7 linked regions of the Homo sapiens genome follow. The protein of the gene in region 3 purifies or fractionates together with the protein of the main gene of each other region. This does not show direct contact. Each region holds a gene or a part of one and is shown on either strand. Other genes may lie near its edges.

What was found.
Region 1: the proteins of SCAMP2 (region 3) and SLC2A3 fractionate together in Homo sapiens (co-fractionation; one large-scale study listed by BioGRID). This does not show direct contact.
Region 2: the proteins of SCAMP2 (region 3) and LRRC8C purify together in Homo sapiens (affinity purification with mass spectrometry; one large-scale study listed by BioGRID and IntAct). This does not show direct contact.
Region 4: the proteins of SCAMP2 (region 3) and WDFY1 purify together in Homo sapiens (affinity purification with mass spectrometry; one large-scale study listed by BioGRID and IntAct). This does not show direct contact.
Region 5: the proteins of SCAMP2 (region 3) and NTSR1 purify together in Homo sapiens (affinity purification with mass spectrometry; one large-scale study listed by BioGRID and IntAct). This does not show direct contact.
Region 6: the proteins of SCAMP2 (region 3) and RAB11FIP5 purify together in Homo sapiens (affinity purification with mass spectrometry; one large-scale study listed by BioGRID and IntAct). This does not show direct contact.
Region 7: the proteins of SCAMP2 (region 3) and DIPK2A purify together in Homo sapiens (co-immunoprecipitation; one study listed by IntAct). This does not show direct contact.

Annotation. Positions count from the first base shown.
Region 1 is NC_000012.12:7,922,688-7,926,187, forward strand, and holds part of SLC2A3 (solute carrier family 2, facilitated glucose transporter member 3), read right to left. Parts: intron 3,262-3,500; coding exon 3,157-3,261; intron 1,825-3,156; coding exon 1,723-1,824; intron 338-1,722; coding exon 134-337; intron 1-133. UniProt on the Homo sapiens protein: Facilitative glucose transporter. Can also mediate the uptake of various other monosaccharides across the cell membrane. Mediates the uptake of glucose, 2-deoxyglucose, galactose, mannose, xylose and fucose, and probably also dehydroascorbate.
Region 2 is NC_000001.11:89,713,120-89,716,576, reverse strand, and holds part of LRRC8C (volume-regulated anion channel subunit LRRC8C), read right to left. Parts: coding exon 1,595-3,457; 3' UTR 1-1,594. UniProt on the Homo sapiens protein: Non-essential component of the volume-regulated anion channel (VRAC, also named VSOAC channel), an anion channel required to maintain a constant cell volume in response to extracellular or intracellular osmotic changes.
Region 3 is NC_000015.10:74,863,366-74,866,865, reverse strand, and holds part of SCAMP2 (secretory carrier-associated membrane protein 2), read left to right. Parts: intron 1-3,500. UniProt on the Homo sapiens protein: Functions in post-Golgi recycling pathways. Acts as a recycling carrier to the cell surface.
Region 4 is NC_000002.12:223,874,848-223,877,091, forward strand, and holds the end of WDFY1 (WD repeat and FYVE domain-containing protein 1), read right to left. Parts: 3' UTR 501-2,244; downstream 1-500. UniProt on the Homo sapiens protein: Positively regulates TLR3- and TLR4-mediated signaling pathways by bridging the interaction between TLR3 or TLR4 and TICAM1.
Region 5 is NC_000020.11:62,707,350-62,711,635, reverse strand, and holds the start of NTSR1 (neurotensin receptor type 1), read right to left. Parts: upstream 2,801-4,286; 5' UTR 2,429-2,800; coding exon 1,715-2,428; intron 1-1,714. UniProt on the Homo sapiens protein: G-protein coupled receptor for the tridecapeptide neurotensin (NTS). Signaling is effected via G proteins that activate a phosphatidylinositol-calcium second messenger system.
Region 6 is NC_000002.12:73,078,449-73,081,948, forward strand, and holds part of RAB11FIP5 (rab11 family-interacting protein 5), read right to left. Parts: intron 3,216-3,500; coding exon 1,203-3,215; intron 1-1,202. UniProt on the Homo sapiens protein: Rab effector involved in protein trafficking from apical recycling endosomes to the apical plasma membrane. Involved in insulin granule exocytosis. May regulate V-ATPase intracellular transport in response to extracellular acidosis.
Region 7 is NC_000003.12:143,978,323-143,981,822, reverse strand, and holds part of DIPK2A (divergent protein kinase domain 2A isoform a precursor), read right to left. Parts: intron 1-3,500. UniProt on the Homo sapiens protein: May play a role in cardiomyocyte proliferation through paracrine signaling and activation of the PPI3K-AKT-CDK7 signaling cascade.

The sequences.
Region 1 (3,500 bases), on a different chromosome or scaffold from region 3:
CCCGCCTCAGCCTCCCACAGTGCTAGGATTACAGGCATGAGCCACCATGCCAGGCCCAGACTACTGTATTATTAAGGAGTATCTTCATGTCAGCTTACATAGGCTGGTTTTAAGATAAGGTGAGTTTACTTACAGCAGCGGAGGGGAAGAGCAATCCGACTAGGAAGTTGGAGGTCCAGTTGGAGCAGCCGGCCACTGCCATCGCAGCTGGGCGGGGGCCCTGGCTGAAGAGTTCGGCCACAATAAACCAGGGAATGGGGCCTGGTCCAATTTCAAAGAAGGCTACAAAGACCAAGATAGCCCCAATACAGACAAAGCTCATCCCATTATAGTTATCCTGTAAGAGCAAGGAACAGAGAAAATTAAATTTAAAGACAGTGTAACCTAGTATCTAGGTTCCCAGAAGCAATTAACGGCAAGCTCCTCCTGTCCCTGACGTACAATACAAAGAGTGGCTGTGGAGTCAAAAGGCTTGGATTTATTTTTATTTTTATTTTTTGAGACAGGGTCTTACTCTGTTGCCCATGCTGGAGGGCAGTGGCACTACAATAGCTCACTGCATCATCGATCTCCTGGGCATAAGCAATCCTCCCACCTCAGCCTCTCAAATCGCTTGGACTTGAAGCATGTGCCACCACACCTGCCTAATTAAAAAAAAATTTTTTTTTTGGCCAGGAGCTGTGGCTCACGCCAAGGCAGGTGGATTATCTGAGGTCAAGAGTTGGAGACCAGCCTGGCTAACATGGTGAAACACAGTCTCTACTAAGAAGTACAAAAATTAGCTGAGCGTGGTGGCACGTGCCTATAATCCCAGCTACCTGGGAGGCTGAGGCAGCAGAAACACTTAAGCCCAGGAGGCAGAGGTTGCAGTGAGCTGAGATCCTGCCACTGCTCTCCAGCCTGGTGACAGAGTGAAACCCTGTCTCAAAAAAAAAATTTTTTTTTGTTTTTTTGTAGAGAAAGTTTCTTGCCATGTTGCGTAGGCTGGTCTTGAACTTCTGGGCTCAAGCAATCCTCTAACCTTGGCCTTCCAAAGTGTTGTGATGACAGGCATGAACCACTGCGCCCAGCCAGGATTGGATTTTTTTTTTTTTTTTTGAGAGAGAGTTTCGCTCTTGTCGCTCAGGCTGGAGTGCAATGGCACCATCTCAACTTACCACAACCTCTGCCTCCTGGGTTCAAGCAATTCTCCTGCCTCAGCCTCCCAAGTAGCTGACATTAGAGGCATGCACCACCACTCCTGGCTAATTTTCTATTTTTAATAGAGACGGGGTTTCTCCATGTTGGTCAGGCTGGTCTTGAACTCTCGACATCAGGTGATCCGCCTGCCTCACCCTCCCAGTGTGCTGGGATTACAGGCGTGAGCCACCGCGCCCAGCTGAGGATTGAATTTTTCAATCCCATCTATATGATCTCATATATGTCACTTTGTACTGAGACCATGTCATCATCTATTAAGTGTGATTACCTTGATATTATTCTAAGAATTAAATTAGATAATTTATTTTATAAGCTATAATAATGTTCTATAAATGTAAGGATTCTAACAGTTTACCTCCAGTTCTCTGACGACCCATGTTTCTTAAACTCTGGGCATCCTGCTTCTCTCCTCTGACTTTATTGACAAACTGCAACCTTAACAACCCACCCCTTGTGTCACAGAAGTCAACTGTAACCTCTCTTCTTTCCCCCTCCCTTTTTTTTCACCCAAAGAGCACCTACCTTTAATAACAAAGAAACAGTCATGAGCGTGGAACAAAAAGCCATCCCTCCAAGGCCTATCATATGCAGAGTCCTTCTTCCTGCCCTTTCCACCAGAAATAGCTGGAAGAAGAATATGACATGAAACTTCAGTTTTCCTTTCCATGAAAACAGCATCTGAGCTACTTGAAATCTGCCTTACCAACAGCAGGACACTTGTTATGGATACCCCTCCTGTGATTTATGATTTTATATACATACATATTGTGTGCCATTCACAGGTCCTGGCTCAAAATCCCCATAGCCCTTGGTAGAGTCTTTTGTCATAATGTTGGGATGCTTCAGGCCTCAGGAGCAGGCCTCAGATAACAGAATTCTTCTCTGACTTTCTCCTGCCCTCCCACTTGGCAGGACGCTAATCTGACTGTGGGTCATAAAACCCTCATTTCAGAGAGGGTCCTGCCCCACACCCTAGAGGAAGAAACGCTACAGAGAGGCCAACAAATCATCTAAGCAGACAGGCCCAGCTGGGTTCAGATCATTCCCTTTTTGTCCAATCACAGGTCAGAACAGTTGTCCATGCTTCAATCATGGAGAACCAATTAAGTCTGCATAAAAGGCCCAAAAGGCAGGGTATGGGGAGCTTCCAGATATCTGAACCCGTGGAAGCTGACAGGAAGGTCAGCAACAACTCATCTATGTGCTAGGAGTGCACCCCAACCCCACAGAGACAGAAGCTCCCATGCTCAGGATCCCTCCAGACCTCGCCCCGTGAATCTCTTCATCTGGTTGTGTATTTCTGTGCTTTAAAATATCCTTTAAATCAAACTAGGAAACAATTTTCCTGAGTTTTGTGAGCCACTGTAGCAAATTAATCAAACCCAAAGAGGATGTCGTGGGAATCCTGATCTACAGCTGGTGAGTCAGAAGCACAGGTAAAACAACCTGGAGCTTGTGACTGGCATCAGGAGTGGGGGGCAGTCTTGGGAACTGGGCCACCAACCTGTGAGATCTGATGCTATCTCCAGGTAGACAGTGTCATAATTAAAAAATCGCAGGACACCTAGATGGTGTCCACTACGGAACTGATTGCACACCTCACGGGGAAAAATTCTCACATATTCTGGGGATCACAGATAACTTCTGTTGATTATTGTTGTTTTAGTGTAAAAACAGTGGAGTAACAGAGCTTGAGAGTTTTTCCAAGCACCTTTCCTCCAATTCCAAGTTCAAAGCATACTATATAGTCCCTTCTATACTCCCTCCTTTCCCATCCATCCCATATTTGCTTGAAGAGTGAAGACTACATCCAACATTAAATTTATCTCTTTTTCCCAAAGGAAAATTAAGCAACAAAAAGGTAACTAAATGATGGTAGGGTCATGCAATCCATCTTTGAACATCTGTAGCAAGGATTCTTTTCTCCCCTCAAAATTACCAAACCATCCAACTTACAGAAACTACAGTGAAGATAGTATTAACCACACCCGCGCCGATGGTGGCATAGATGGGCTCTTGAACACCTGCATCCTTGAAGATTCCTGTTGAGTAATAGAACACCTAGGAGAAAAGAAAACATGCAGCTTTGATGCAATTCTGCACACCAGTTACACAGAACCCTCAAAAATAAACTTAAAAGTCCCAGTGGGTAAGAAGTCCTTTTTCTAGGTTTTCGTTCAATACTAATATCCCTTCTGCAAATGAATTATCTTCTGTATCTTATCTCCTAGTCTGGATCTGTCACCCAGGCAGGAGTGCAGTGGCACAATCTCAGCTCACTGCTACCTCCACCTCCCAGA
Region 2 (3,457 bases), on a different chromosome or scaffold from region 3:
TAATAGTCAGTGAAATATTTTGCCCAAGAGCCCATGCTATGTTGGATTTTAATTACAAAGGTAAATAAAAGCTCTGCTGATGGTCAGGCAAAAATTATTGCTAAGCAACAACCACTTAGCAATTTATTCACACTTTAACGAACAATTTTAGATGAGATACATATTTTAAGCCAGAGAGCAGATGGATTTCCCGTGCTTGTAGCACTAGTTCACAGCAAGGGCAGGCTTGAGGGAAATCGATTAATATCCAGTCATCCCTCGGTATCATGGGGAATTGATTCCAGGATGCCCTCGAACACCAAAATCTGAGGATGTTCAAAATCCTTGACATAAAATGGTGCAGAAATTGCATATAACCTATGCACATCCTCCCATATACTTTAAATCATCTCTAGGTAATTTATAATACCTAAAACAATGTAAATCCTATTTAAATAGTTGTTACGCTGTATTGTTTAGGGAATAATGACAAGGAAAAAGTCTGTACATATTCAGTACAGACACAACTTTCTTTTTGAGTATTTTCCATCTACAGTTGGTGGAATCCACAGATGCAGAACCCACAAGTACGGAAGGCTGACTGTATATATAAGTGGATTATTTTGTGTAACAGGCAAAATTTGAATAGATTACCACTGCCACACTGTGCTGAGAAAAGGAGAGGGCCTCACTGGAGCACACCAGCTCTTTAACAGGGTGCTTTAGTAAATTTTTTTCCATCTGATGCAGCTGCATATCAAGATATGAAAGATGATTAAATTACTCAAAAACCAGGCTTCTATCATTTTAAAATTTAATTATCTATTAGAATATTAAAATAAATCTAGGTTCTCCAAAGTTGTTCACCAGTACTACATAGCAGTATTGAGATTAAGGTGGGAGGAGCCTCTGTATTTAGGTTTTAAATATTTTTAAAATGTTGGTAAAATGCAAATAAGTTAAATGATAAAGGCCTAATTCAAACATACCAGCCACTAAAGATTATTTTCTTCACTCACAAAAACCTTGCCTAAGGATAACAATAACTGTCAGGTATATGAAATAACACAGTTTAGGGTTTTGTTGGAGGCAGGGGAACATTTAAAATACTCTATGACAATGCACTTATGTGAAGTTCCACTGAATGAAGGTCTTGGCCAATGGAGAAGACAGCTGGTATTAAAATAACTAGCACAGATTCCTTGATACACACACAATGAAAACAAAAATAAGAACCCTGTACAGGTGTAAACAAGTTAAAAATGGCCTTGGCAAAATATCTTCCTCTATTTAAAAAATGCCAAAAAGCATGCAACTTATAATTCCCTCCTTTCCACAAGAATGAACTAAAAAACAAAAACAAAAAACCAAATGGAACTATCTCTTTCTGTCAGTAGATAATAGATACATTGTGTTTCAAGACAAATAAAACTTCAAAATATTAATATTGAAAAAATACAATTAAATTTTTATTAAAAATACATACTCCTTACGCGATCTTTGTGTACATTTTGTGTGAAAAGGAAAAAAAAATAGGAAAGGCATTAAGACTACCTAATTATTTATACTGTATTTGGTAGAAGCGTGTTTCAGTCAAACTTTAACGAAAAATAAGTTATTCTGTTTTCATTTGCTCCCGGACGTCAGAAGGCAGAGTTTCAAACAGAGCATCTTCTACAACTAAACCAGCTCGCTTCAGAGCCCGACAGTCACCCAGTTCAGGAGGGAGGATTTCAAAGTGATTACCTTTTACATCTAAGTAGGAAAGAAATAGCAAATTTCCAATTTTCGGTGAAAGTACAGATAGGCTGTTTTTTCCAATCTTCAGAGTTTTAAGTTTCTTGCAGAAGTAGAGTTCATCTGGAAGGCTTTCCACTTTGTTACATGTGATGGAAAAATACTGTAAACTTTGTAGAACTCCAATTTCAGGGGGGATAAATCGAATGTCATTGTACGATAAGTCCAAGTATCGGATCTTGTTGCATAGGAAGAGGTGGGAAGGCAGCACCTCTATTTTATTGTGACTAAAGGACAGGCGTTCCAGGCTGGTGAGTTTCTTTATATGCTCTGGGATGTAGGTGATGCTGTTATGCCACAGTTTTAGCACTGTCAACTTTCTTAAGTGCTGAAAGCTAACGATTTCTTCTATAGATTTCAGATTGTTTTCCTTCAGGTCCAATTCCTGGAGGCTGAGTAGGCTGAACACAGCATGAGGAATACGCTCCAGGTCACAGTGGACCAGCTCCAGCTCTGTCAGATTGGTCATCTTCTTTAAGTTGTTGAGCATCACCAGCTTGGTGCCATCATTATGTATGCACATCTTCTGGAGATGGCTGGAAACATCAACCACTGCCTGAGGGATTTTGGAAACGTTGCTTTTGATAGAGAGAATTTTAAGGCTTTTGAGATCCCGCAGAGACTCAAGGGTGACATTTCTGGAAATATCATGACTTAGAGAGCCAACTAGGTACAGCTCTTCCAGATTTCGGAGCCCATACATCCAGGGGGGGAGTTCCCTCATGTCATCAAACTTGACGCTCAAGACCTTGAGGTTTTCCTTCAGGAAAGAGAGCGCCGCACTGTGGATTTTGACAGAACACTGGTGCAGAGAGAGCTCTTGAAGATTGTCTAGCTGTGCAATGGTGGCTGGTATCATTACGTTCTTAATGATTTCAAGTTTTAGAGATTGCAACTCTGTGATTTCAAAAACAGTGTCTGGAAGGCCAGAGAGCATGATAAGAGGCAATTCCAGTCGATTATGGGCATTTGTCTGTAGCTTCTGCCTCAGTTTATCAGGAGTCCATTCGTTATTTAAGTTCAGCTGCTTTAATTTGTTTTCACTGACTTCAGACAGGAACACTGCAAATCTCTTGGAATAGAGAGGGTCATACTGATCTATCATATGAAGCATAAAAGCAAAGTCATTTTTCACATCTGGAATATCATCAATTCCAGTCTCCTGACGGACATACTCAAAGGAATATTCCCGTAGAGAACGGTAGAACAGCCAGTATAAGGTATAAAGGCACGTCAATCCATAGATACTAACAAAGCACAGATAGCAAAAGGACAGTTTTGAGAACAAGTGTGCCATGGTATGATTGCAAGAAAAGTTTTTATATCCAGTCATGTCCTGAATGTCCACATTACAGTCCACTGTAAACTGGACCTTGGAAACCAGAGCACTATTATATGCAATGATGATTAGGAATTTGATAACTTTAAGTACAGTCTGGCGAACATACATGGCATATAGAATATCACCTTCTTCCACATGCAGCCTGAACTTCTTCACCTTCTCAAATAAGGCCTTAGCCTGCTCACCTTCCTTTTTATCCAGAGCCCCTGCAGTGGATTTATCAACTACAAACTTCTCAGGAATGGACTTTAAAGACTGAGAGTTGACCAGGCTGTCTTCTGGACCAGATTGGATGGTGTTGGACCTGTTCATGTTGTTCTTCCTGTTGTCCTTTTCTTC
Region 3 (3,500 bases):
GAGATTGCACCACTGCCCCCCAGCCTGCATGACAGAGCGAGACTCCATCTCAAAAAAAAAAAAAAAAGAAAGAAAATAAATGCTCACTGAGAGTGACAGCACATCACAAGTGGGATCAGGGCAGTGTCCAAAGGAGCTGGGAGGGCTCTCAGGAGGAAGGGCAGAGACCTGTGGCACAGAGGGCTTGGACTGAAAGCAGAAAGCCTGGCAGATGGGAAAACAGGGTTATTCATTTATTTTTTGAGACAGAGTCACACTCCCGAGTAGCTGGGATTACAGGCGTGCACTAGCATGCCTGGCTAATTTTTGTATTTTTCGTAGAGGTGGGGTTTCAACCACGTTGGTCAGGCTGGTCTCAAACTCCTGATCTCAGGTGATCCACCCACCTCGGTCTCCCGGAATGCTAGGATTACAGGTGTGAGCCACCACGCCCGGCCAGAAAACAGAGTATTTTTGGGTGAAGTAGTGCCAAGAACCAAAAGTCGCTCCTGCTTGCTGTCATCCCTGTACTCCTGTGTCCACTCTTACCCCTGCACCCCCAGGCATGTCCTCACTCTTAGATCTTAATGGTCTCTTAGGGAGTCATGAGCCTGGGATGCGTCTGCTGCTTGTGACTCACATGCTTGTTTGGCCAGTCTCTTGAAATTCTCTCCATCCTTGGCCTCTTTTATCCTGATAATTCTCACCTTCCTCAGCCTGTTTTCACTTCCTGTCTCATACATTTAGGAGTATTCCAGAGTTCTTTTTTTGTTTTTATTCATGCTATTGGAAGTTCAGAACTTAAACTTTGTCTTTCTTTTTTTTCTTTTCTTTTCTTTTCCTCCCCTCCCCTCCCCTCCCTCCCTCCTTTCCTTCCTTCCTTCCTTCCTTCCTTCCTTCCTTCCTTCCTTCCTTCCTTCCTTCCTTCCTTCCTTCGAGACAGAGTCTCACTGTGTTGCCTAGGCCGAAGTGCAGTGGCACAATCACGGCTCACTGCAGCCTCAATCTCCTAGGCTCCAGAAATCCTCCCATCTCAGCCTCCCAAGTAGCTGGGACTACAGGCAAACACCATCGTGCCTGGCTTTTTTTTTTTTTTTTTTTGGAGAAATGAGGTCTCACTTTGTTGCCCAGGCTAGTCTCGAACTCCTGGATTCAAGCAATCCTGCCTCAACCTCCCAAAGTGCTGGGTTTACCCTGTTCTCACTTTATACCTTCATTTCTATGACTTCAGAATAGCATCCACATTTCAGCGATCCCAGATCTAGATCTCTAGTTCTCAGCTTCCTCCTGAGCTCAGACCACTATTTCAAACTCACACCTGCACCTTCCCAATCCTTCCAACCAGAAATATTCCACAGCTATCTCCAACCTGACTCAATATCTTCTCGGATCCTCTCCCTACCCCACCACACCCACCCTTGAAAAACCTGTTCCTCCTCTCCCACAGTCACTTATTTTGGGCACTCCTTTCTTTCTTTTTTCTTTTCTTTTCTTTTTTTTTTTTTTGAGACAAAGTCTTGCTCTGTTGCCCAGGCTGGAGTGCAGTGGTGCTATCTTGGCTCACTGCAACCTCTGCCCCCTGGGTTTAAGCGATTCTCCTGCCTCAGCCTCCCAAGTAGCTGGGACTACAGGCGCATGCCACCACGCCCGGCTAATTTTTGTATTTTCAGTAGAGATGGGGTTTCACTATGTTGGCCAGGCTAGTCTCAAACTCCTGACCTCAGGTGATCCACCTGCCTTGGCCTCCCAAAGTGCTGGGATTACAGGCGTGAGCAACTGTGCCTGGCCTTTTTTTTTTTTTTTTTTTTTTTTGAGATAGAGTCAGGGTGGAGTGCAGTGGTGTGATCTCAGCTCACTGCAGCCTCCACCTCTCCTGGGTTCAAGCAATTCTTCTGCCTTAGCCTCCTGAGTAGCTGGGATTGCAGGAATGTGCCACCACGCCCGGCTAATTTTTGTATTTTTAGTAGAGATGGGGTTTCACCATGTTGGCCAGACTGGTCTCAAACTTCTGACCTCTAGTGATCCACCTGCCTCACCCTCCCAAAGTGCTGGGATTACAGGCGTGAGCCACTGTGCCTGGCCTCAACTCTATTCTTTCCCTTCCCTTTCCTGCCCTGTAGTCTTTCCATTCCCAGGCCAACCCAGAGAGTTGCTGAGCCTGTGGGATTGATGTGAGGAAGGTCTCTGAAGTCCCTCTTGTTCCTCTTCTCCATCCCCAGCTGCTGTCCCTCAATTTGGTCCTCACTTCACCCATGTTGACAGTTGTGTCCTAGCCAGTCTTCCCGCTGTTGTCCTACCATGCTGTTGCACTCCCTTCACTGCTGATAGAATGATCATGTCACCCCTGACTGCAAATCTCTAGTTGTTCCCCGTTGCCTGTAGAGCAACATCCAAAGTCCCACAATCTGGCCCCACCCTCTTCAGACTGGTTCCCTGATACTCCAGACTCTTCTCTCCACACACCCCTCCACAGCCTCCATAACCTTCTCTCTTCTGAACACATGCAAGCTCTTTTTAAAGATTCTCGGCCAGGTGCGGTGGCTCAAGCCTGTAATCCCAGCACTTTGGGAGGCCAAGGCGGACGGATCACAAGGTCAGGAGATCAAGACCATCCTGGCTAACACGGTGAAACCCTGTCCCTACTAAAAATACAAAAAATTAGCTGGGCATGGTGGCACACACCTGTAATCCTAGCTACTCAGGAGGCTGAGGCAGGAGAATCACTTGAACCTGGGAAGCGGATGTTGCAGTGAACTGAGATCACGCCACTGCACTCCAGCCTGGACGACAGAGTGAGACTCCGTCTCAAAAATATATACATATATAAAATAAATAAATAAATAAAGATCCTGTGGCTTTGCAAGTGTGGTTCTTGCCTTCCTCTTTACTGTTTGCTAGGTTTCTTTCATCTCTCAAGATCCAACTCAGATTCCAGCTCAGTAGAGCCTTCCCTGACTCTCCCAGACAGCTTAATTACTCTCTCCTCTATGATCACACTGTGTCTCACCCTGTGTCTGCCCTCACCCTGTTACAGTGCTGATCATGTGCCATCACCTCTTGCCCTGGCTTCTGTGTGATTCTCTGTACTATTTGCTTCTCAAAGGCAGGAATCAAGGTTCTTTCTTGGTTTCCCTAGCCCAGTGCTTGGCATGGAATGGTTTGTGTATGGAGAGACTACACAGAGGTGCGAGGAGATAGTAAGTGTCCCATTTTGAGGGTAGATTCCTTTAGAGGATTGGTGCCAGGTCCTGGAAGGCCTTGAATGCCCGGCCAGGTGACTCAGACTTGCTTTTCTGAAGGGTTCCACACATTGCAGCCGGTGGCAGGAAGCGAGGCCTGAGTGTACCTTGCTCACTTACTGTTTTTTTTTTTTTTGGAGATGGGGTCTGTCTCTGTCACCCAGGCCAGGGTGCAGTAGCGCAATCATGGCTCACTGCAGCCTCGACCTCCTGGGCTCAGGCAGTTCTCCTGCCTCAGCCTCCAGTGTAGCTGGGACCACAGGTACCCACGACGAGACCTGG
Region 4 (2,244 bases), on a different chromosome or scaffold from region 3:
CTATTCACTGCCTTTCTGGTTTCTAAATCAATCTCTGGTTTAGTTGAGGTATCAGTTCTTCTGGGTCTGAACCACACGTGTTCACTCACAAAACTGAGCTGCTGAGGAGAAGTAGAGCTTGATCTTGTTATCACTAGATAGCTCTGTGTAGTCAGAGCGCCTAAATATCCTGCACTATGCTGACTGCTACCTCAAGCGGCAGAGACAGTAATACCCACCACCCTTACAGACAGCACAAATGACATGCTAGCACATTCAGGCCAGAGGCAGGAAGAAGGCATGTGTTTTCAAGACAGAAAGGCAGACTTAATAACACACATTCTCTTGGTTTTCTCATCTGTAAAATGGGAGGAATGATGCCTTGCCCAAGTGTTGCCAGGATTGAGTAAGATAATGTAGTGAAAGCACCCAGCACACAGAGGGTGCTGAATAAATGGTTGCTACTGTTATTGCCCTACGTCCAGGCTGACTACAACAAAAGTGATATTAGGCAAACACAGTAACAAGCAAGGAATGTTTTATTGTGTACATTTTCTCAAAAAAAAAAACCCACAAAAACAGAACCCACAAATAGGAGCAAAGAACAGTTTTCTAGCATCTCTGGGATACACAGGGCACCATATCTTATAGAAACATAGCTAGTACAAGAACAAAGTGTACTAATTAACATTACCCCTTGCTTCCCCAGTCAAAAAAGGCTATAGAGAAAAACACTTTAAATTGTACTCTAATACAAATTTGTTGCACAATTAAACTTCAACTTACTCAAAGAGTTATTGTATTGTAAACTGCAGAAAATAGAATAGGCATTCAATAAATCTGCTCACAATTAACAATTAAGCAATAGACACTTGAATAAATATAGCATGTATTACTTATTTGTTAAGCCTTACACTTACGATGAGCAGATGGTTTATCACTATATAGTAACAGATTTTTTTTACACTTTAGGAGATACCATATCCAATAACGGAAGTAGAAGTACTTTAACGAAAACTGATTTTAGAAAAATATCTCCTTGGGTCTGAGCTACTATGGTATTTATTACATATTTGGGTCAGTTTCACCAGTTTAAAAATATAGGTACTAACAAACTGAATTCTTTCATGGGAGAACAAAGTAATACATTCTAGAGCAATAGTATTTCTTTATATCCTTTAGGTAGCAGGACAGAGCTAGGACATAGTAAAGAGATTTACGATGTAATGAATAATTTGTTTCTACCTAATGCTATAGGGGTATTGCTATCATTTGAACTAAGAAAGAACAATTTTAAAACTTGTTTATAATGAAGAATCGGCATTTCCTTACCACATATATACTAGATGTAAATATAAGGATCTTCTCTAATAGTCTGTATTCCTTAATCCCTATCTGTACAAATTAGCCTGCATATTCAGGAATGGAACAACCAGTAAACTGTTACTTGAAGAACTAATTTAAATGATCCATTTAAGAGAAATGCAGTCAAAATAAGGCAATAACCATCAGCCTATCTGTACTTTTCTTCTGTGCCTACTCAGTAAAATTGAGAAAATAATTTTTGCCCACTTCTATAAAAATATCACCCCATTTGCTACCTAGCATATGAGAGAGACAAGACTAGCCTGTCACGTTTGTCTCTAAAAAGAAAAATGATAGGCCTGGTGGAGAGCAAGCTATATGGAAACATCAGCCTTTCCTTTTCTAAGATACGTCACTCCAATTCTTCCTTAAATATAAACTTCCTCCTTGATTTATATTAACCCCTTAGGAGGCACTATAATAACTTTATGTTCCCATGGAACATAGGGTTTTTCAAGAATTTCTTAAAATAAAAAAGGTTTGAAAGCTATGGAGTAAACTCAGCAGCTGTGATATTCCGTTCAATCTACCACAGATGTCAAACGGTCACATTTTACAGAAGTCAAAGGAAAACAAAACCACAGTTCTGCACTCTTCCACAGGGCAAGGAATTGATCATATTCTATTTTCCTTTCAGGAATTCATAAAATCCCTAGGATAGCACCTTTGTATGGGCTGAACCATTAACTGAACTAAAATTAATACAGGAAGCTTAACATTCAACATTGTGCTTGAACAAAACTTACCACTACTCAATTTTTCTTCCAAACTATGTTAGTAATATACATTTTGCAAAGAGTCTAGAAAGTTTTTAAAAGAAATCTCTTTAGGTGATGTAACACGAAAACTCTAAGGAACAACAAAACCCTTCAGTCTTATTTCTGAAGACAAGTCTATGTT
Region 5 (4,286 bases), on a different chromosome or scaffold from region 3:
CTTTTGCCAGGGGAGCAGGGGGATCGGGGTTCTGAGCGGGGGGATCGGGGATCTGAGCGGGGGGATCGGGGGTCTGAGTGGGGGGATCCGGGGTCTGAGTGGGGGCATCTCCTGGGTGGGCAGTGACAGCGCTGACCCCTCCACTGCCCACCTTCTGAAGGACTGAGTGGCTGTCGCCCCTGGGGCCCCTCCACGCGGACTGGGGAGAGGTTCCCCCTGGCCAATGCCAATCAAAGACAGGAGCTTGGGGAGAGCAGATAAAGCCTCAAAGGGAGGGAGAGGTCATTTCTCACTGTGTTTACCCCACAGGCCGTGCCTACTTCTGCCTCTGGTGAGGGGAGGGACTCTCGCCGCAGAAGCAAAGCAGCCCTGACTCACTGCCTGCCACCAGTGTCTGTGGGAGGGGCCTCCCCGAGATGGGACACCTGTAGCCACCAGTTCTATGTGCAGCCAGGGAGACTGGGAGCTCAGTTCTACCCTCCTCCACCCCCCAGCCCACCTGGGTGGTGGCCAGTGGAGGGTCAGTTAGGGCCCAGGGAGTGACAGACAGGTGACCCCCTGCCCGGCACTGCTGCCCTCACCCCCACCGGGCATACTGGCATACGCGGGGTGCCCAGGCAACTACAGAAGCTTAGCTGGGAGGCTGGCGATGCTGGTGTGTGGGGAGTTGGGGGGACAGCCAGCCACCCTGGCCCCTCTAGCTGGGCAGAGGTAGGCGACTCTGCCCGGATCCTTCACCCTCTGGCTTCCTTAGCCCACCAGAAATGGAGGAAACCCCACACTTCTAAGGCTGCTCATTTCCAAGATGCCTTTCAAAGTTCCCGACCGGCCCTGACTTCCTCCCTGGACACCAGCCTCCTGCTCGGGGCTTTGGTTTGATCAGCCCTCCCCTCCAGCACTGGAACCCCCCGTGCCACGAACCTCAGCCAAACTGATTCCCAAGGGGGCTTCCCACCCGCATTCCCACGGCGCTTTGCTCAGACCCTTGGAGGGCCCTTAGTCACTCGGCTCCAGTTTTACACACCTCACCACAACACCGCCGCCACACGCAGATCCTCACAACCTTCCCCGCAGAAACATCGTCCCCACCATCCCGCAATAATAGTGCCTGTGAGCCCTTCTATGTGTCAGGGGCCATGCAAACACTTCCCACGCGTCCTCTCTCCAATGCTCTACCTTCTGAGGTCAATGCTATCACTACCCCATCACACAGATGGGAAAGCTGAGGCTAAACTAGGAACTGGCCCAACACGGCATCAGGTTCTGTTCTGACTCCCAAGTTTGGGTCAGGGCAGGCAGCTGGGAGGCACCGGCAGAGCCAGTCTGGGGGCTTCTCTGCAGAGGAAGGAACATCACCTGTTGGTGGCACAGTCTTTTGAGAAGCTGATGAAAGTGTTACTCTTCCTTTGGAGACGCAGGTGCCAGCGCACATGTTTCCATTAGGCTTAAGGAATTCAGAGATGTCCGAGGCCCAGCCACCAACACCAGAGAGGTCACAGGCAGGGGCTCCATCCCCTCAACAGGAGGGAAGAAGATAGGGGCTGAGCCTGGCAACTCTGGAGCTGCCCCCAAGCTGCCCCAACCGCCTTCCCAGCCTCGCAGGAGTAGACTGTCTCTGTGACATCTCTCCCACTCCCTACCCAGAAGGCACACCACTGGCACTGCTTTTGGGGTGAAGGAGAGGGGAGCCCCGGGGCTGGTTACTGAGGCTCACCTGTATGACGACCTTGACGGTGGCAGTGTGGATGGTGGGGGTGCACACCAGGCCGCCGGCGTGCTGGCCGTCGGCGCTGCGGTTCTGCTCGCCCATGGTGAACAGCATAGGCACCGCCAGCAGGGCCGAGGCGAGCCAGATGGCGCTGATGAACTTCTTGGTGCGGCTTCGGGACATGAGGGTCTTGGCCTTGAAGGGGTGGCAGATGGCCAGGTAGCGCTCCACACTCAGGCTGGCCACGTTGAGGGCCGTGGCGTAGGTGCAGGCGTCGCGCAGGAAGTAGTAGCCGCGGCAGCCGGCGTCGCCGAAGGCCCAGGGGTGGTGCACCCAGATGAAGTTGTACAGCTCCACGGGCATGGCCAGCAGCAGGGTGAGCAGGTCGGACAGCGCCAGGCTGCCCAGGTGGTAATGCACCGTGCTCTGCAGGCTCTGCAGCGACTTCTTCCGCGCCAGCGTGAACGCCGTCACCGTGTTGCCCACCGTGCCCACCACGAAGAGCGCCAGGTACACGGCGGTCACCAGCACCTTGGAGTAGATGTCGGTGTTCACGTCCAGCTCGCTGCTGGGTGCCGCCAGGACGCGCTCCGACGCGTTGCCCGAAGCGTTGCCGAAGCCCGGGGCCAGCAGCGCCTCCTCCAGTCCGGCCTGCGCCCGCTGGAAGGGGTCGGCGGCCGGCGTGCCCGGGGTTCCCGGCGCGGAGCTGTTGAGGCGCATGGTGGGCGCTGGAGTCCGCGGCTCTGTCCGGCGCCTCCGGGGCTGGAAGTCCGGGCAGGAGTGGGCGCGTCTCAGGCGGGGACCGATGAACGGGAGCCCAGGGGAGGGCGCGTGGCGAAGACCAGCGGGCGCGCCGTCCAGTCGGGAAGCGCCAGACCCAGACGCGCCGCCCCGGGCTCCGGGCTCCGGGCTCCGCTCTCCTCCGGACTCCCAGCTTCCGGCTCCTAGCTCCAGAACCCGTGGTTCCTCGGGCTGTCTCCCGGCTCGGCGCTTGCCACGGGTTCCAGGTGCCTCCGATCTCCAAACCGCGCGGTTCCCCAGGCCCCCGAGGACAGCGCCCAGCCCGGCTCGGGCTGCGCGGGGCGAGCTTGTGGCGCCGGGAGGAGCGCACGCACTGCTGCCCGGGCGCGCTCCCCTCCCTCGCTCAGAATCTCCTCCCTCGCGCTCTCCGCGCACCCCAGCCCCGCACACCTCCCGCCGCGCCCGCGCCCTCCCGGCTCTGCGCGTCTCCACGGAGCCGGCGGCCGCGCGGCGCGCCCAGCAGTGGGGGGTGGCGGCGGAGGAGGGAGGCAGCCCCCGCCGCCATCCCCGCCCCGCCCGGGTGCAGCCTGGCGGGTCGCCCCCTCGCGCTCCCCGGGGCAGGGCGGGCTGGGGTGAGCGCTCCAGGGAACCAGGATTCCGAGCGGGCGCGGCGGGTATCGTGCACCAGACCCTTCCTGCCACCCTCTTCCCTGTTCTCCGCAATTTCTCGCACCGGCTAGGAAGGGAACTATGCACCTCCCCCAACCCTGGGCTCGCTCAGTTGGGGTGAGGGTGTATCCGGAGGGCAGGGAGGGAGGAAGCTCCCCGCTGGCAGGGCTGGGCGGCTGCGCAGCTGGTTGGGCCGACCCCCACTCCTGGGTGTCCACAGGGTGCCAGAAGCTGGGTGCCCAGGGGGCTCTAGGACCACTGGAGATTACATTTCTGGTGATTCCTTTTAAAATCTGGCCGCAGTCATGGGCGTGCCTGGTCTGTGAATGCGTATTTCTGGGATGTGCCCAGTGGAAATGGTGGGGGCTCAGGGCATAGTTATCACCTGGGGCAGGATGGCGTGAGGCAGTACCGAGGGACACCTGCAGGGGCTGAGGAGCTGAGGGGCTGGGTCCTGCAGAGGCCGGGAGCCACAGATGGTTTCATCAAAGTCTGGGGAGGGGTGAATGAGGGAGGGCAGAAAGCAGGTGCCCAGAGCAGCACCCTCCCCACTCAGGGCCCTGCATCTGGCACCCTGGGCTGGTCTCATGACGCTATGGGATGTGATGCCCTGGGCCCCTTATTACTGCCTGGATTTGTCATCAGAAGCCACCCTGAGAGCCTGCGCCCCAGCAGGATTTGGGAGAGGCAGCCCCAGCACGCATCCTCCCAGGCCCTGCAGGCTTTGCACACTCCCTCCCTCTGAGTGTCCTCACAGGGTGCCCCGGCCCCTGGCTCGGGAGCCAGGTGAGGGCAAGATTCCTGTCCTTTCCGTGTCCCCCCCAGCACCTGGTGGCACTGGCATAGGTGGCCAGGCACAAGCTTGCCCCCCCCTCCATGTCTGGGTTGCCCAGGGGCCCCCAGGGCACTACTGTCCCTTCTCTGGGCCCTCCCCGCCCCCTCCCCTGCTCCCTCCTCCCCAGAACCCCTGGGAGAGGTTGGGTAGAGCTGCTGCCCCATGTGTGCAGGGCTGGGAGGAGCTGCTCGAGTGCAGCCCAGGGAACCAGCCTGGCCTTTGTGCACATGGCTGGCTGCACCTGCTGTGCTGGGAGCAGGAAACCTGGGCAGGCTGGGGCGGGGGTCGCAGGGTGTTGAGGGAAGCGGGAGGCTGAGGAACCCCCTCCCGGGC
Region 6 (3,500 bases), on a different chromosome or scaffold from region 3:
TCCCCCACATCCTCTCCCTCACCTCAAGGGAGGAGAGTCACCACCACCACCAGGGAGGGACACTGGGGGCAGCCTGGACTCCCTCCCACCCACTTCCCATATGTAGTTCTGGCCCCTTGGGGTTTCTTCCCTTCTTGGGTCCACTTTATCTTCCCCAGTGGATTGGACATTCCTTGGGAACAGAGTGGAGACAGTGTCTTTCATCTGTTCAGCATCTGACACATAGTAGGTGCTCAGTGAATGTGGATGACCAAACATGAATGCCTGGTCGGGAGGCCAGTGCTGGAGCCTGCCCTGCTCTCCCCTCCCTTCACTCGGTCCTCCTAGAGCGCTATCGTCCCAGAGGGACTTGCTGCCTTCTAAGTCACACCCCATCACCTCCCAGTGCCCTGAGTCTCCAGGCCTCTGCCCACATCACCCCTGACCAGCCACCTGGTGAGGTCACAGCTTCATAATTCTTCCAAACCTCCCAATGCCACAGTGAGCACAGTCACACAGGCATCCGCTGTCCACTCAGCGGTCCTAAGTGCATCAGAACCACCCCTTAAAAGGCACCAAACGCAAACCAATGAAGCAACTGCTGCGCGTGGGGAACCTTTCTTCTGAGAGTTACATATGTGGGAAGTGTTTGAGTTTTCCTTTTTCTTCTGAAGGTGTCTGCAGCTTTCTCTCTGACCTAAGTGCTGGTCCCTCCTCTGGCTCTCTGCCTTCCCCAGCCTGCACCCTCACTCTAGCAGAATAGGAAACTGCTCAAGGCTCCACTGCCAGCCTGCTCTGCCACGGTCTGCCCCAAGAACTACCCCCTGATTGACAAGTTCCACCGCCCCCCACCCACAGCTCCCCTGCGGCTGAGTGCACACACTCCAGAAGGGCCTACAGCACTGCTCTCCTTCCCTGCCAGCCCACATCGGCTCTCCCCACTTCATTCCTTATACCCTGCACCTCATCAGTGCTGTTCTCCAAACCCCTGGCTTGTGGGGGGCTGCCTTGATTATCCCAAGTCCCAAGACAGCAGCTTCAGAGGTGGTACCATAGAAAGCTCCTGTCTTCAAAGCCTGTACCGTCTTGCCTCTGGGGTAAAAGAGACCCTCACCTGCCCCACAAAGGATGAGACTGGAGTGTGAACCCCTCAGTCCCTTGGGCTGTTCTGCCCCCTGTCCACCCCCTTCCTCCTGGACAGTGTTCTGGGGGTGGATGCTCACCTGGCACTGGGCTGTGGCTCCTCAGCTGGTCGTGTCTCCAAGGGCAGAAGCACAAGCGGGGAGGCTGGGGTGGCTGCAGCGAGGTCCTCCCTAAGTAGGGCAGGGGAGCCCCCAGGTGGGGAGGGCTCATGGGGGCCAGGGAGTAAGGCTGGCTCCCCTGGTGGTGCAGAGGAGGTAGTCAGGGGCCAGGCTTCAGACAGGGGAGAGCATGGAGGGCTGGGCCCCCCACGGTGGTGGCTGGCCCAAGGCGGGAGAGGGGGCGGTGGAAAGTCAGGCTCTGGGGGAGTGGGCAGCTCTTCTGGACCAGAATGAATAGAAGATTCCCTCGACCCTGGCGGGGATGCAGATGAGAGGCTGGGAGGATCTCGGCTCCCCTGAAACAAGAAGGGGTTCAAGGCATCTTCCTTGGAGACCCACACATCAGCCTGCTGGGAGGTGGCTGACAAGGACCCAAGCCCCTCTCCTACTGGATCCTGGCCCTGGGCCTCAGGAGCCTCAGGGCCTTCTCCAACCTCTGGAGTCCCCCAGATGTGCTGACTCTGAAGAGCCAAGCTCTTTGAGTGACAGGGTATGGGGGCAGGACCCTCAGGGCAGCTGGCGGGTGCAGACAGGCAGGGCCCAGACACAGGGGGGCTGGCATCCTCCACTAGCTCTTCCAGGCCAGGCTGGCCCAGCAGGGTTGCAGAGGAGCAGCTGTCAGACTCCTCCGACTCACGCTTCTCTCCCTCCTCCTTGGTCTCCGGGGGACCGACAACCAGTGCACTTGGGGAGGCATCTTCTCCCTCTGTCTCCGGCCCCCTGTTACTCAGCCCCACTGCGGCCTTCTCCTCCTCCTCCTCCTGGGATCTTGAGGGTGTGAAGAGGCGCGGTGGCTTGGGAGGTGGGGTGCTGGGCTGCAGCCCCTTGTCAGACACCCACTCGGGTTTAGGCTCGGGCTCCGGTGGGGGAAGCCCCTCGCTCCCCTTGGGGCTCACAGTTTCTGGTGATTCAGGCTGCACCTGGGGAGCAGGCTCATCAGACTCTCCCCGAAAGACTAGTGAGGCTGTCTCAGCTGCAGGAGAAATGGTGACCACATCCCAAGGCCAGGCATCATCAGCTGTCTCGACGTCAGGGCAAAGCTGATTTTCGCCTCGGGAGGACTCATCGTCCTGGCCCTCAGCAGCGCTCTCTGGGCCCGGCAGCCTCTCCCACACACTGATCACTTCTGGGGAGCTAAATAGAGATGTCCCACTGTCTGCCGGACTCTGCCCTGCTTCCACTTCCGGGGCTGGCAGTTCCCTGTCTGGTTCTGAGCCTGAGGCTCTCAGCTGTAGCTGGGCTGACGAGGAGGGCAGGCCAGCCCCTACCGACCCGAGGAGCCCTGGGTCAGCCGCGCTCGCGCTCTGGTGGTTCGGTCCCAAGTCCAGAGGAACCCTGGGCTCCAGCCACACGCTGCTCCCACCTCTTCCTCCTCCTCCTCCTCCTCCTCCTCCTCCTCCCCCAGGCTCTCCCTGGGGCTCAGCTGCCTTCGCAGTCATGGCCCCAGGGCCTGGGTCTTGCAGCCCTGCCGCCTCCAGCCCCACTCCTGCAGGGGCCAGGATCTCGCTCCTGGCCTCTGGACGCAGCCTGCTGGCAGCAAAGACGTTGAAGGTGTTGTCCCACTCAGGCAGGGCTTTCCCAGGGGAGGCCAGGGGGGTGGGGCTGGCCCTCGAGGCACTGGGGAGAGAGGGAGCAGGTGAAGGAGAGTTTAGTGCTATGTCGGCTATGAGCTCCTCGAAGAAGGGGTTGCTCTGCAAAGAGGTGAGGAACGGGTTGGTAAGACCCAATAATCCAGGTGGGGTGGCTTCAGGGGCGGCGGTGGTGGCGGCAGCGGCAGCAGTGGCAGCAGCGGGGGAGGCGGCTGCAAAAAGGTTAGTGCTTAGCATGGGAGCAGCAGTGGGAGCAGGAGTGGGAGGGGCCGGAGCCCAGGGGGAGCAGGGGAGGTGGTGAGGAAGAGCAGCTGGGTCAGATTCTACCTGAGGAGACACGTCCAGGCTGTGGAGGGAGACAAAACCGTGAGCCTCCTGGTTAATGCCAAGACTGGAAAGGCCCCTGAGTCCCACGCCCCACCCCCTGCTTCGGGACCAGGGGCCATAACACACACATAGGCTGGATTTACCTACTTGGGCCAGGGTACAGAGGGAAGACCCCAACATGTAACATTATCAAGTGCCTCCCAAGGAGAAATATGCCAGGCAAAGCTATTTTAATGCTCACTCCAACCCCAGAGAGAAATCATCTCATCTGATAGGCAGGATCCGATCCAAACCTAACCAAGTG
Region 7 (3,500 bases), on a different chromosome or scaffold from region 3:
TAATTATCTTTACAACAGTCAAAATGAATTCAAAAGATAGATTAACACAACCTCCCTCAAGCCAATATCCTTTTGTTGAAGTTAAACTTTATTAGTTTGGGGTGGTTTTTTTGGGTTTATTTTTTGTTTTGTTTTTGTTTCTGTTTTTGTTTTTGCTTATTTATCATCTGTTTAAGAATTTTTCAGATTTTATAAAGGTAACGGTTTATATATTACATAAGAGCATTCCAGAAGCCAACATTATGCTGGAAAAATAATGTTAAGATTGATTATTTAACCTAAGTGATCTCCACCCAGGCTGAGACCTAAAGGATGAGTTTAATATTAAGCAGACTGGAGATGGGGCAGTTCAGGCACATGAAAAGCCTGAAAGTATCTTCTCAGAAATGAATAAAAGACCAAAGCAGCTGCAGTGAAATGAATGGGGAAATGACTTGCGGTAAGGGAATCTGGAGAGTGAAGCAAGGACCAGATCATGTTGGGACTTATAGAATCAAACAGAAATCTTCAACTCAGTCTTTATAGCATCATCTATATGTATGCCATGCAAAAACAAATACATGTCAAAATCTTGATGTTCAGGATTATCTTACATACTGAAATCAAACAGTATGCTATGGTATATTTACCTTATTCTAAAAAACAAGCCTTTAAAATATCACGATAACCCTTTGATCAATATCCACCATCCTGCCAGGTTAATAAGGCCATTTCATTCTATCATGCCATAACACAGTCATGAAAAGGGTGGACATGGAATATATGAGTAAAGATACATAAAAGAATACATTTTGGTATTGTTTATTTACTTACAAAAAATAAATGACATGAGACTAATAGATTAAAATAGAGTCTACTTAAAAGTGCTTGTATTCTTTTTTCTCCTACATGACCAAAAATATTGTATACTAAATTTAAAAGATCAAAATTCCTTTTATACAATATAAAATATTTTATAATACTTCATTACCTCATAATATTCCATTAAAAGGAACATAGCTTTGCAGTTTGCCTTAAGAGAGAAAATAAGTACAGACCAAGAGATGTGTTACCATGCAAGACTGATTTTTGTTAAACTTGAAAGTTCTTAGTATAAACAAACTAACTTCAAAAAAACTATTAATAAAACATACAATCTAAAATGTGAATATCGATTTTCTACATAACTGGCATTTCTACAAAAAAAAAAAAAGTTTAAGCTTGAAAACACTCTTAGAAAGTATATGTCATCAAAAGCATAGAAAATGCTTAAAGGGGCCAGGCGCGGTGGCTTCACACCTATAATCCCAGCACTTTGGGAGGCCTAAGTGGGCAGATCACCTAAGGTCAGGAGTTTGAGACCAGCCTGGCCAACATGGTGAAACTCGTCTCTACTAAAAACACAAAAATTAGCCAGGCGTGGTGGTGAGCACCTGTAATCCCAGCTACTCGGGAGGCTGAGGCAGGAGAATTGCTTGAACCCGGGAGGCAGAGGTTACAGTGAACTGAGATCACGCCACTGCACTCCGGCCTGGATGACAGAGACTCCATCAAAATAAAGACAGACAGACACATAAGAAAGAAAAGAAAGAAAGAGCTAACTTAAGTTTTAAAATTATTTTTTAAAGCCCAAATTTGAATGAAATCCCATTGTAGTAACGCATGTTATAACAGCTGTTCATAAAGATTAGTCAACTGTACTGGTGACAGACTAATGTGTTCACAGTTTGGTGAACTGTCTGGAGGGGAGATATAGTAAAATTACGGGGATGATTTAATGGTTACTGAATTTTTGCTAAAATTTCTCTAAGATCTTAGCTTCTTAATTTATACTGCTAAATAGCAGCCAAAATCCATTGCAAATACTGTAGAAGCTTAACAATTTCAAGATTTTTAAGTCCTAGCATATGTCCCATTTATTTCATGAAATAATTTTCTGAATGCCATTTTCCACCCACCTCAAATTCCAACAATATTAAACAATGCCTTGAAAATAGTAAGGTTGTGTTATTTTACTGAATATCATGTCCAACAGCTGTATCTAAAATTGGAAACTGATGTCAAAACACATTTTAAAAACTAAATTTAATAGAAATAGATTATCTTTTAGAATAAATTGCTTAAGAAATGCTGCCCCCACCAAAAAAAAACACAAAACAAAAAACACTTCACTTGTTCACAAGTTTTAAATATGCATAAGTTTACTAGTCTCAACTGACCCTTACTGTGTCCCAGGGGTATATACAGATCAGTTCCTGGCACTATTGACCAATTCCACATAATTACTGTCAGATCTTTTCATTTCAGAGTTAACCCCCAAAAAAGCATTAGAAAGAAAAAATACGAAGACACTGAAGCATCATACTTACTTCAGATTACAAATCTTTTAAGATTCTGTCTCAGAGTCTAAGGTCTAGACTTAACCTGTTTTTTTGTACTACCATTTACCAATGTACTAAATAGAATTACTAAACTATAATAATGATTTACAGAGAAAAAAAGAAACTATTTGCCTTTTACTTCTTAATCCTTATCTAAACCGTCTTTCCTACCATATTCATTCTATTCATTACACTTCATATGAGACAAATCCCTAATCCCCTTTTAAACTACTATTTTTAAAAAACTATAGCCTGAATAGGTACATATGATTTACGTATATGTAAGGACAGTGACATTTGAATGTCTGCAATAAGAAAAGTAGGATTTTTACATTTCTAAGACAGACATCAGCATAATGTACTAAAGAACTTTTAACTACTATAGCTGTCTAAAAATGGAATAAGCTGATTTTCAAAGAAATAATACACTGTAAAAAGCTTTACAACTGAAAACATTTAACAGATATTACTTGAATAATCCTTTCTTCTTTAATCTTTAAAACAATCCTGTTAGGTAAGTATTAACAACCCCATTTTACTGATTAAAAAAACTTAGAATCGGAAACATTAAGTGACTTGCTCAATACCATCCAACAACTTTGTGGTAATACAGAATGTGAAATGGATGCTCTATCAATACTGCCCCCTCCACCCTTCCTCCCACTCTCCACCCCCATCTATTGGCAAAATCTCTGAAACTTTCCCTGGTACCATTCCTATCAATATACAATGAGATGTCCCTCCCTGAGTCATGTGACAGTATATATATATATATATATAGATATATATATATCTATATATAGATATATATATATATATATAGATATATATATATATATAGATATAGATATATATATATAGATAGATAGATAGATATAGATACCTTTTGTACAGGGCTTATTAAATGGATTGTATAATAATTAGTTATTTGTGTACCTACCTCCTACATAGTAAGCTACTTGTTTCCTACGGCCATCTTTCCATCCTTTCAATCCAAATGCCTTGTAACAGATTGTAAAATGAACAGACAAATTCAGTTCTTTTGGTTATAAATTCAAAGAGCTCTCAAGAATTTCACAGACAACTTCCTATCACCTTATACTAACCTCACCTTACACTAATAATTTTCAGTCATGTTAC